Linked DNA regions of Homo sapiens: region 2 is linked to region 1. A link means that fine-mapping ties the variant in region 1 to the expression of a gene that starts in the linked region. Tissue or cell type: whole blood. Region 1 holds a variant in brackets; the other region holds the start of a gene. All regions are shown on one strand. Distances are from middle to middle.

Region 1 (5,000 bases):
TGTATAGAGTTTCTAGTTAGGGCCGTTATGAGTGTTGCTGTGACTATTTCAGTGCATGTCTCTCCATGAACATACGGATGCATTTCTCTTAGGTACTTACCTGGGAGTAGAACTGTCTATGTATGCTCACTTTTGAAGAAACTGCAAATAGGTATAACAGCTTATCTGAGAACTGAGGGCCCAGTTCTGCTTTTGCCTGCTTTTAGTCCTAATGATGGGGTTCTATACCAGATCTGTACCAAATCTGATCTTCTATCACCCAAGACTGAAAGACTCCCAAACCATTCTATTGCATCTACCTTAAAAATATTATCTTCACAGATATTGCCTGTGTTTTTTTTTCCTAAAGAAGAGGCTGTTAACCAAGAAGGGTAGAATAAATTATATTGTAGTTCAAGGCAAATTCTATTATAAAGGACAAGCTGCCTAGCAAAACACAACTTATAATTACATTTAACTTCAAAATAAATCAAATTATTCATACAAACCCAACCACTCACTGGTAAATTAATGAAAAACATGACAGTATTGAGCTTTGAATTGCTTCTATGCAAACCCCCAAACTTAAATTTAGGTTATTAAGGCCGAAAAGAGGCAATTAATTTGCAACAAATGCATCCGTAAAAACCTGTTACAACATGGCTGCGGAGTTAATCTTCTCTAAGTTTATAAAGACCATCTGCCCAATTTTTTTGCAGGTTTTCCTTTAGACAATCCTATTTAGACAGTCCCTCCAGACTAATTGCTTTCTTGCTTTTTGAGGGGAGAGGGAGATTAGTATCTTTTTCCAATATCTCCAGTATATAAGCTTCATAAGAGCTCTGTTATCTCAAATGTTGAGTTTAATTTCCTTTCCAGAACATATTGGTCAGAATGTTAAACCTCAAATAAAAAGATTAGTGAGTAATAGTAGGGCTTAAATAAATTAAGGCTTGTAGGCTATGTTGCTACTTTCTGTTTCCAAAAGATAATCTTTTTTCATGTTATTAAACATCATTTGTGACCTTTAAAAAGAACTCCCTGAACTCATTAATTAATAATAAAATCTGGCTGGGCATGATGGCTCACACCTGTAATCCCAGCACTTTGGGAGGCCAAGGCGGGCAGATAGATTGAGCCCAGGAGTTGAGACCAGCCTGGGCAACATAGTGAGACTCTGTCTCTACAAAAATAATTCAAAAAATGAGCCAGGCATGGTGGTGCATGCCTGTAGTCTCGGCTACTCAGGAGGCTGAGGTGGGAGAATCACCTGAGCCTGGGGATGTTGAGGCTGCAGTGAGCCAACATTGCACCACTGTACTCCAGCCTGGGTAACAAAGAGAGATCCTATCTCAAAATAATAATAATGACAATAATAATAGAATCTGGCTAGACTATCACATTAGTGAAATGATATAAAATGACATAAAATCATGCCAATTTTCAATTTTAAGACCTGATAATGCCTATTACACATCTTCAAAATTACTAAATCGATTTGAAATGGTACAAACTACAATCAAATATATTTTACTTGGCACCATCAATTTAAGAAACTGCAAATCAGCACAATAAGGACAGTGAAATGCGAAGCAAAAGAATTGCAGAAAAAGAATAATTCCCCCAATATTACTATATTCCTTATGGTGACAGAAGGAAAAGGAAATTTGTTCTTCTTGGTACAAGACCTACTTCCATGCAAGTGGAAAGGGTGGCTGCTCTAATGATGTGGGAATGGAGTCATCAAGAAATGACTCCTTCCAGCAGCAGGAAATGGTTTGAGGGGCATGGAAAGGAACTTCATAGGCCCTTCCATGGCACCTAGAGTCCCCATTCTGCAGGCCTTTAAGGTTACGATATGTTATAATGTATTATGACCAACATATTTATTCATTCAACAAACAGCTATGAAAGACCTATCACACTGTTCTAAGGTCTAGAGACTCTGTGATGACTAGCACAGATATGGCCCCTGCCCTTACGGAGTTAAAGATCTAGAAGAGGAGGTAGAACCCAGGATAAATAATTATACAGATAAATTCTAATAAGTGACACAAAGGGTGTCCCCAGAGGAGATGACAGTGACTAAATCTAGATGTATGTTGGGGGGAGGCAAGT[T/C]AGGGAGTGACTTGGTTACATACAACATGCAATATAGTTAATCAGTGTTGAATATGCTGACTCTACTCTTTATAACTAACACCACCTTTAACCAAGTAAATGATATTCATCGTATCTTTGCATCAGTCATTTCAATGCAACTAATTTTTTGAGCACTTGTTTTTATTTCAACTACTTGGAGGTACCACAAAGGAATGCAGAGATGACCATGGTGTAGTTTCTACCCACAAGAGTGAATGATCTGGTCTATAGAGGAAGTGGTCCACAAATAACTGGCAAGACCACAGCATGAAGTGCACCCTAGTGAAGTACGCACTGTAATGAAGTACGTGTCGAATCAGCCGTAAGGGAAGCTAACTGGAGGCAAGGGAAATCTGCAGAGAGCAAGGGGATTCAGGCTGGATCCTAAGACTATATAGCATTTCTCCAGGCCTAGGAGGGAAAGGCACTCCTGGGAAAGGGAAGAGGTGTGAAAAGTTGAAAAGAAGTGCAAAGGTCATTGTGTATTTGGTGAGCAGGCTGCAGACTGGCAGAATGGCAGGGGAGGAGGGTATGGGGACAGAGATGGGGGGCCTGTGGGTGAAGGCAGGTGGGCCAGACTGCGGGGGCCCATGACTCCAGGCTGGGTGGGGGCTGCAGACTGGGGGTGCCATAGGGCACTGTGCAGAGCTCTTCCACTTGACCTCTGGTCTATATCTGCTCTCCCCGTCTCCACCCTGCTCTGCCCTTGGGAGGCGGACTACGTGGACTATGGCTGATGGCTGCCCTTGCCCTCCAGCTTCGGGTTGGGAGCCAAGAGGAGGCCTGGCAGGAGGTGGAAGGAGGGAGGAGGCAAGGTTGGACTATTTACATCCTTGGATCCCTTCCTGGGCTGGCGGCATCCCTCCAGCAGGCCCACAGCTCGCATCAAGACAGCCCCTCCACACAGCTGCTGCGAGCACACGCTCTCATGGTGGCGGGCCCCAGGCTCTGTGCTTTCCCTGTGGGTGCCACGCCCACTCATGCCTTTGTACATAAGCTCTTCATTAAGCTCTCCTCACTTTACCTGGTTGGACTGTTTCATCTCTTCTCCACCAGGACTTGAGCTGATACAGTCAAGCAGCAAGGAAATGGGGTGGGAGTGGGGGCTACTGACGGCATTAGGGGCAAATGCAGAGAGGGAGGGTCTGGGAGAAAGAGGGGACTGGGGGATGGTAGGTGGTGATGTGGTGAAGGGGGGGATATGAGGGAGGGGCGATGACAGACTAGCCACAGACCACAGCACTTACGTGAAACCTATGCGTGCCAGGCCCTCTTCCCCAGGCTTTCACAGAATTCATTTAACCCATGCAGATTCTGTATGAGGCATCGTATTTAACAGATGAGGAAACTGAGGCACAGAGAGGCCAAGTGACTTGGTCAACATCCCAAACTAGTAAGTGGTGAAGTTCAGATTCAAACCCAGGAGAGTCCGGTACCAGAGTCATATTCTCAACTACTGCACTGAACTGACTACTCCGATTGAGGTCAAGGAGGAGGACTTCAGAGCTGGAGATGTTGGGGGAGGCAAGGGACTGTGATGGCAACTCACAGGAAAGCCATCTGTGAGGACTGTCAAAGGAAAGCCACTTGGAGAAGATCTTGCTATCCTATACAAACTGCCTCAATGACAATGCATAATCTTTTTCTTTTTTTTTTTTTTGACAGTGCATAATTTTGTACAGGTATCAGAATGGCAGTAATCCTCAATGATTTGGATCCTTGCATTCAAACATATTACAATTAGCTCTGCTATAATAACTATGTTCCTAAGAACTTCACATTATAAAAAAATCATATAAATAGCTATTTCAATATGGGAAAAGGAGGGCTGTGGTTACAGAGTTGATAAAACTAGATAATTTTTTCCTACAGGAGCTTCAACAACAAACAACTTAATTATATTTTGTTACCATCTGCAAACAATAAACAGCTTGATCAGACCAACAAAAGAGAAATAAAAGCAAAACCTGAACAGCACAGAAAAATAACCTGCAGTCGTATTCACACCCACTGATGGTAGAGAACAGTGCTTGATGCCAGCTGGCCTCCCACCACTCATACAGTACCTCCGTGTGGCCCTATACCCATGTGCAGCCCTTCCTTCCTGTGGGCCAAGGGGCTCTCCAGTGGCACTCACATCCCAACCCTGAGTGGTCCAGAAAATTCAAGCCCCACTCCCCATGTCGTCAGTTGCATAATACTCAGTTCTGAGAATGAAAACTTACACTGTCAGGAAAATATTGATCAATATCATTTAAGGTCTCTTGCAGCAGATAAGATCATAAAAACAACCATGCTCTGGAAAATAAGGAGTGGTTTATAAATGTAACAATAGCACAGCACACCCTATTACTTTTTTCTTTTAGAGACAGGGTTCTGCTCTGTCACCCAGGCAGGAGCGCAATGGCACAATCATAGCTCACTACAGCCTTGATCTCCTGGGCTTAAGCCCAGCCTCCCACCTTGGCCTCCCAAAGCACTGGGATTACAGGCATGAGCCACTGTGCCGGCCTTGTTATTTTAAGTGGCATATCACCATCTTAACTCAGGTTGTCTTACAGCCACATGCCAACATGGCTATTAATGTCAGAAACTTCCAGAGCAATCACTTTCCTCTCTTTACGGAAAAAGACAGAAAGGGAAAATGCTCCCTAGTCAGACCTATGTATTTTTCATTTGCACTGCGGGCTGTTAAATGTGCTAGCTTAACCAAGACTGTAACGAGGACTCCATTAACCAGCTCTTAGAAACGTGGTCAGCCAGGAGCCTGCAGCCACCCAGTGGGCATTCAATAACAGCTACCGACTGTATTGACTGGCCTCGACCTGATTCTGTTGTTTCTGAATAGCCTCATGCTGGGTCCCACATATGTAAAGACAGGA
Region 2 (5,320 bases), 78 kb after region 1:
TTGACATATTTTAAAATGGCCCTACAAAGCTACAAAGCTGTCTTTTGTAACAGAAATTTGCATCTGTAGAGAATCTCCATTAATGCAGCCAGGATTTCCTTTTCTAGGCCTTTCCCAGATCCAGGAAAGATTAATTCTGACACCTAAATTTCCAAAAAGAGACATTTACCATCTATTCTCTCTTTTTTGTTTTTTTTTTTTTTGAGATGGAGTCTCACTCTGTCATCCAGGCTAGAGTGCAGTAGTGCGATCTCAGCTCACTGCAACCTTTGTCTCCTGGGTTCAAGCAATTCTTGTGTCTCAGCCTTCCAAGTAGCTGGGATTACAGGCGCACGCCACCGTGCCTGGCTAATTTTTTTATTTTTCGTAGAGATGGTGTTTCATCATGTTGGCCAGGCTGGTCTTGAACTCCTGACCTCAAGTGATCTGCCTGCCACGGCCTCACAAAGCGTTGAGATTACAGGTGTGAGCCATGGAGCCCAGCCCATCTCTAGTCATGGCACCTAGCCCATCTATTCTCTGAGGCTGCTACTCACACTTCATCTACGTAACAAGGACCTTGAACCACACAACTCCCTTATCTTAGTTCAAGCATTCTTTTCTACTGACTTCAAGTCTTTAGACAAAGCTTAACTCTCTCAAGCAACTGTCAGCTAAAGAATCCCTAAAATCCACCTAAGACTTCTAAGACCACCCTTGGACATATCCACCTTTTTGGGTCTAACCAATGTATACCTTCCATGTATTGATTTATGTCTTTGCCTGTTAACTCCTGTCTCCCTAAAATGTAAAAAAAACAAACTATAACCCAACTGCCTCGGGATCACTTACTAAAGACTTTTTGGGTTTGTGTTTTCTCTCTGGGCGATGGTCAATCATACTGGCTCAGAATAAACCGCTTTAAAATAGTTTACAGAGTTTTATTTATTTGCTAACAGTCTGACACATGATACAAAGACAAGCTTTGAAAATATTATACATAGTATAAGAAGATAGCCGGGCGTGGTGGCTCACACCTGTAATCTCAGCACTTTGAGAGGCTGAGGCAGGTTGATCAAGAGCTGAGGAGTTCAAGACCAGCCTGGCCAAGATGGTGAAACCTCGTCTCTACTAAAAATACAAAAATTAGTCGAACGTGGTGGCAGGCGCCTGTAGTCCCAGCTACTCGGGAGGCTCAGGCAGGAGACTAGCTTGAACCTGGGCAGCAGAGGTTGCAGTGAGCCAAGATCGTGCCACTATACTCCAGCCTGGGCTACAGAGTGAGAGTCATGAGACTCCGTTTAAAAAAAGAACAAAAGTCATGAAAGAAGCTAGTCACAAAAACATTGACATTATACTTAATGAAAGAAGCCAGCTGCACTGTATGATTTCATTTATATCAAACGTGCGAATTGGCAAGGCTATACAGACAGAAAGTATACTAGCAATTGTCTAGGACTTGAGGCGGAGTGGACGTGGTGAATGTAGAATGACTGCTACTGGAGGCAGGATTTTTCTTTGGAGTGATGAAAGTATTCTAAAATGAGATCACAGTAATAGATGCACAATTCTGTCAACAACAACAAAAAAACCCTTAATGTTACCCTTTATTATTTATTTTTGGGTACGTTGTCTTGCTCTGTCTTCCAGGCTGGAGTGCAGTGGCGCGATCTGGGCTCACTGCAGCCTGGAACTCCGGGGCACAAGCGATTCTCCCACCTCAGTCTCCTGAGCAGCTGGAACTACAGGCGAATGCCACTATGCTAGGCTTGATTTTTTTTTACGCTTTAAATGGGCAAATTTTACTTAGTAGGTGAATAGAAATTTCCCAAGAAAGCTGTTTTTTTGTTTGTTGGTTTTTTAGCAGAACCTCCTGAAGTGGCAGGTCACTGAAAAAATTTAAAAAAAAACAACAAAACCGAAGCTTATCCATACTCACTATCCACAAATTCCCAAAATTCCCCAAAGCACAGGCTGCAGACACCGTGTGTTGGGGCGGAAGGGGCGGGGAGCTAGCAGGAAATCCTGACATGCCTAGGAAAGCCTCCATAACTTCCTAATTGAGAGAGAACGATCAGATGCATTGCTGTGACCCCCGCCCCCACCACTCCAACCCCCCCCCATCCCATCCCGCGCTTACCTCTCCTCCAAAGCACTCCAGAAAACTGAGGAGAAAAGCCGCCAAGCCCCCCGACACACTCACCATCCGCAACCGGAACGCGGAAGCAATGGCGCCATCTTTTTTATGGGAAATGTGAGGTTCGAAGGAAGTCACCGGAGCCATCCTTACTGCGGGCAGTGAAGGGCAATGGAAGCCGGTCGCGGCCATGTTGACTGAGGCTTTTGGCCTGTCAATGAGGCTTGCCACATGTGGCTATTTTGGGCAATTTCCTGAGGAGGCTTGTCGATAAATGTGCTTGGTAAACCCTAAGGGAACAGAAAAAATATTCAAAAATTTAAATGTTGGCCGGGAGCGGTGGCTTACGCCTGTAGTCCCAGCACTTTGGGAGGCTGAGACGGATCACTTGAGGCCAGGAGTTTGAGACCAGCCTGGGCAACATAGGGAGACACTGTCTCTACAAAAAAAATTTTTTTTTAATTAGCGAGGCATGGTGGCACATGTCTGTAGGCCCAGGTAGTTGGGGGGCTGAGGTGGGAGAATTGCTTGAGCCTGAGAGGTCAAGGCTGCAGTTGGCCATGTTCTTGCCACTGCAGTCCAGCCTGGGCAACAGAGCTAGACCTTGCCTTTTAAAAAAAAAAATTCGTCTGGGCTCAGTGGCTCACGCCTGTAATCCCAGCACTTTGGTAGGCCGAGGCAGGAGGATCACCTGAGGTCGGGAGTTCGAGACCAGCCTTACCAACAGAGAAACCCTGTCTCTACTAAAAATACAAAATTAGCTGGGTGTGGTGGTGCAGCCTGTAATCGCAGCTACCCGGGAGACTAAGGCAGGAGAATCGCTTGAACCCAGAAGGTGGAGGTTGTGGTGAGCCAAGATCGTGCCATTGCACTCCAGCCTGGGCAACGAGAGCGAAACTCCGTCTCAAAAAAAAAAATAAATAAAATTCAATGTCTTGGAGAGGGTGGGGTGGCATGCCCCTGTAATCCCACTGCTTTGGGAGGCCAAGATGGGAGGATTACTTGAGGCAAGGAGTTCAAGACCCACCTGGGCAACACAGTGGAGACCTTGTCTCTACAAAATGGTTTTGTTTTTTTTTTTTTGAGACGGAGTCTCGCTCTGTTGCCCAGGCTGGAGTGCGGTGGCGCCATCTCGGCTCACTGCAAGCTCCGCCTCCCGGGTTCACGCCATTCTCCTGCCTCAGCCTCCCAAGTAGCTGGGACTACAGGCGCCCGCTACCACGCCCGGCTAATTTTTTGTATTTTTAGTAGAGACGGGGTTTCACCGTGTTAGCCAGGATGGTCTCGATCTCCTGGCCTCGTGATCCGCCTGCCTGGGCCTCCCAAAGTGCTGGGATTACAGGCGTGAGCCACCGTGCCCGGCCTACAAAATGGTTTTAATAAATAAATAAATAAACTTGAATGTCTACATTTTAAAAATATGAAAAGTAGAAATTAAAGATGAGGATGAAAATATTGTAATATTCTGATGCATGCAGATAACTACATAACTGCCACAACTGCAGGACCACAAAAAAGAGACTGTCTAAAGACAAAATTACAAAATTAAGATTTAGCTTAAAGATCTAATTGGCTTTTGTTTACAATTCTAGAATCAGGCAGCATCTCATTCTATAAGATTGAATGTTCCAATGAGCTGAGCAGACAAGGTTAGCTTCATAGGCAGAAAAGGGGCTAAAGAATGCAGAAAGAGATTTGAACAAAAAGCAAATTGATCGTCCTTTTTTTTTTCTTTTTTTTTTTGAGACAGTCTTACTCTGTCGTCCAGGCTGGAGTGTCCTGGTGCGATCTCAACTTCCATCTCCTGAGTTAAAGTGATTCTTGTGTGTCAGCCTCCCTAGTACCTGGATCACAGGCGTGCACCACCATGCCCGGCTAATTTTTGTATTTCTAGTAGAGACAGGGTTTTGCCATGTTGGCCAGACTAGTCTTGAACTCCTGATCTCAAGTGATTTTCCCGCCTGGGCCTCCCAAAGTGCTGTGATTACAGCCATGAGCCACCGCACCCGGCCCTGCAAATTGATCATTTCAAAGTTACTTTCCTTGTAGGGTTAAAACAGAGAAGACTTCCTTATTATATTTACTCAGATTGACTGGAATCTCCCGTTTTCTGGAAGATGGGCTTGTTTCAAAGTTCAGTTTGATTACATGGCACTTAGCACAAGTAACTCAGTTCTGATTTGGCCTGGCCTGCTGGGGCCTAGTGGAGGAGGTCAGACCAAATCAATTGCCTCTTATAAAATTTAACAAAACTGAGGGCTCTTTTCCCCTTTCACCATTTTCTTGAAAGAGTAGTGTATACTCATAGCCTCCTATCGATGCCTAAATTGGAATAATAACCCATAAATTAGGAGTCCTGGACTTAAGATAAATATTTTACCTATACACTATTTTCTTTTCCTTTTATTTATTTATTTATTTATTTATTTTTTGGAGATGGAGTCTCACTGTGTCGCCCAGGCTGGAGTGCAGTGGCGCGATCTTGGCTCACTGCAACCTCTGCCTCCCGGGTTCAAGCAATTCTCCTGCCTCAGCCTCCTGAGCAGCTGGGATTACAGGCATGTGCCACCATGCCCAGCTAATTTTTTTATTTTTAGTAGAGATGGGTTTTCACCATGTTGGTCAGGCTGGTCTCGAACTCCAGACCTCAGATGATCCGCCACCTTGGCCTCCCAAAGTGCTGGGATTACAGGTGTGAGCCACCATGCCCGGACTTTCTTTTCCTTAAATACTCCATGCTTGCCTTCTCTCAATTCTGAGCTCTTCCCCCATGCAATTTCTTCCCTTACGAACACTCTTCTCTCTTCTTTGATGTTTATCTTCCTTACAATCTCAGCTTTAACCAATTTTTCCTCCAGGAACCTTCTCTGACTTATCTGAAAAGAGTTAGTGGTCCCTTGCAAGAATAGCTCACTTTCCTCTGTTTACCCAGATTGCTCTAAACTCCTTTGTCCTTTCTGCTTTTCCCACCAAACTGTAAGTATCTCAAAGGCAAAGACCACGTTTATCTTTTTCTCTGCTTGTATTTCAGAGCCCAGCTCAGTGACTCACATATAAGTGAAATCATTGTTATATGCACGAATAAATAAGTCTTTTCCCAGGTCTCACCTGTTCCCCACTCCTCATTCACAACCCACTCAACTTTATACCCTCTAAGAAATCTCAGAAACATGACTTCTTCATGGCTTGTTATCAGTGAAACAA

Evidence for each region. PIP is the estimated chance that this variant, and not a neighbour inherited with it, causes the effect.
Region 2: SHLD1 starts here. The variant in region 1 is fine-mapped to the expression of SHLD1 in whole blood (INTERVAL, PIP above 0.99).

The regions. Positions count from the first base shown.
Region 1 is chr20:5,825,224-5,830,223 of GRCh38, reverse strand. The region is part of intron 2 of SHLD1 (shieldin complex subunit 1); the gene reads right to left. Among named protein-coding and RNA genes, the nearest start is that of SHLD1, 77 kb to the right of the region's middle. RefSeq lists an enhancer at 2,870-3,371. The variant T/C (reference allele first, on the strand shown) is at 2,098.
Region 2 is chr20:5,747,279-5,752,598 of GRCh38, reverse strand. SHLD1 (shieldin complex subunit 1) reads right to left here and starts at 2,198. Exons shown (of 3, transcript NM_152504.4): 1 at 2,120-2,198. RefSeq lists an enhancer at 2,323-2,372.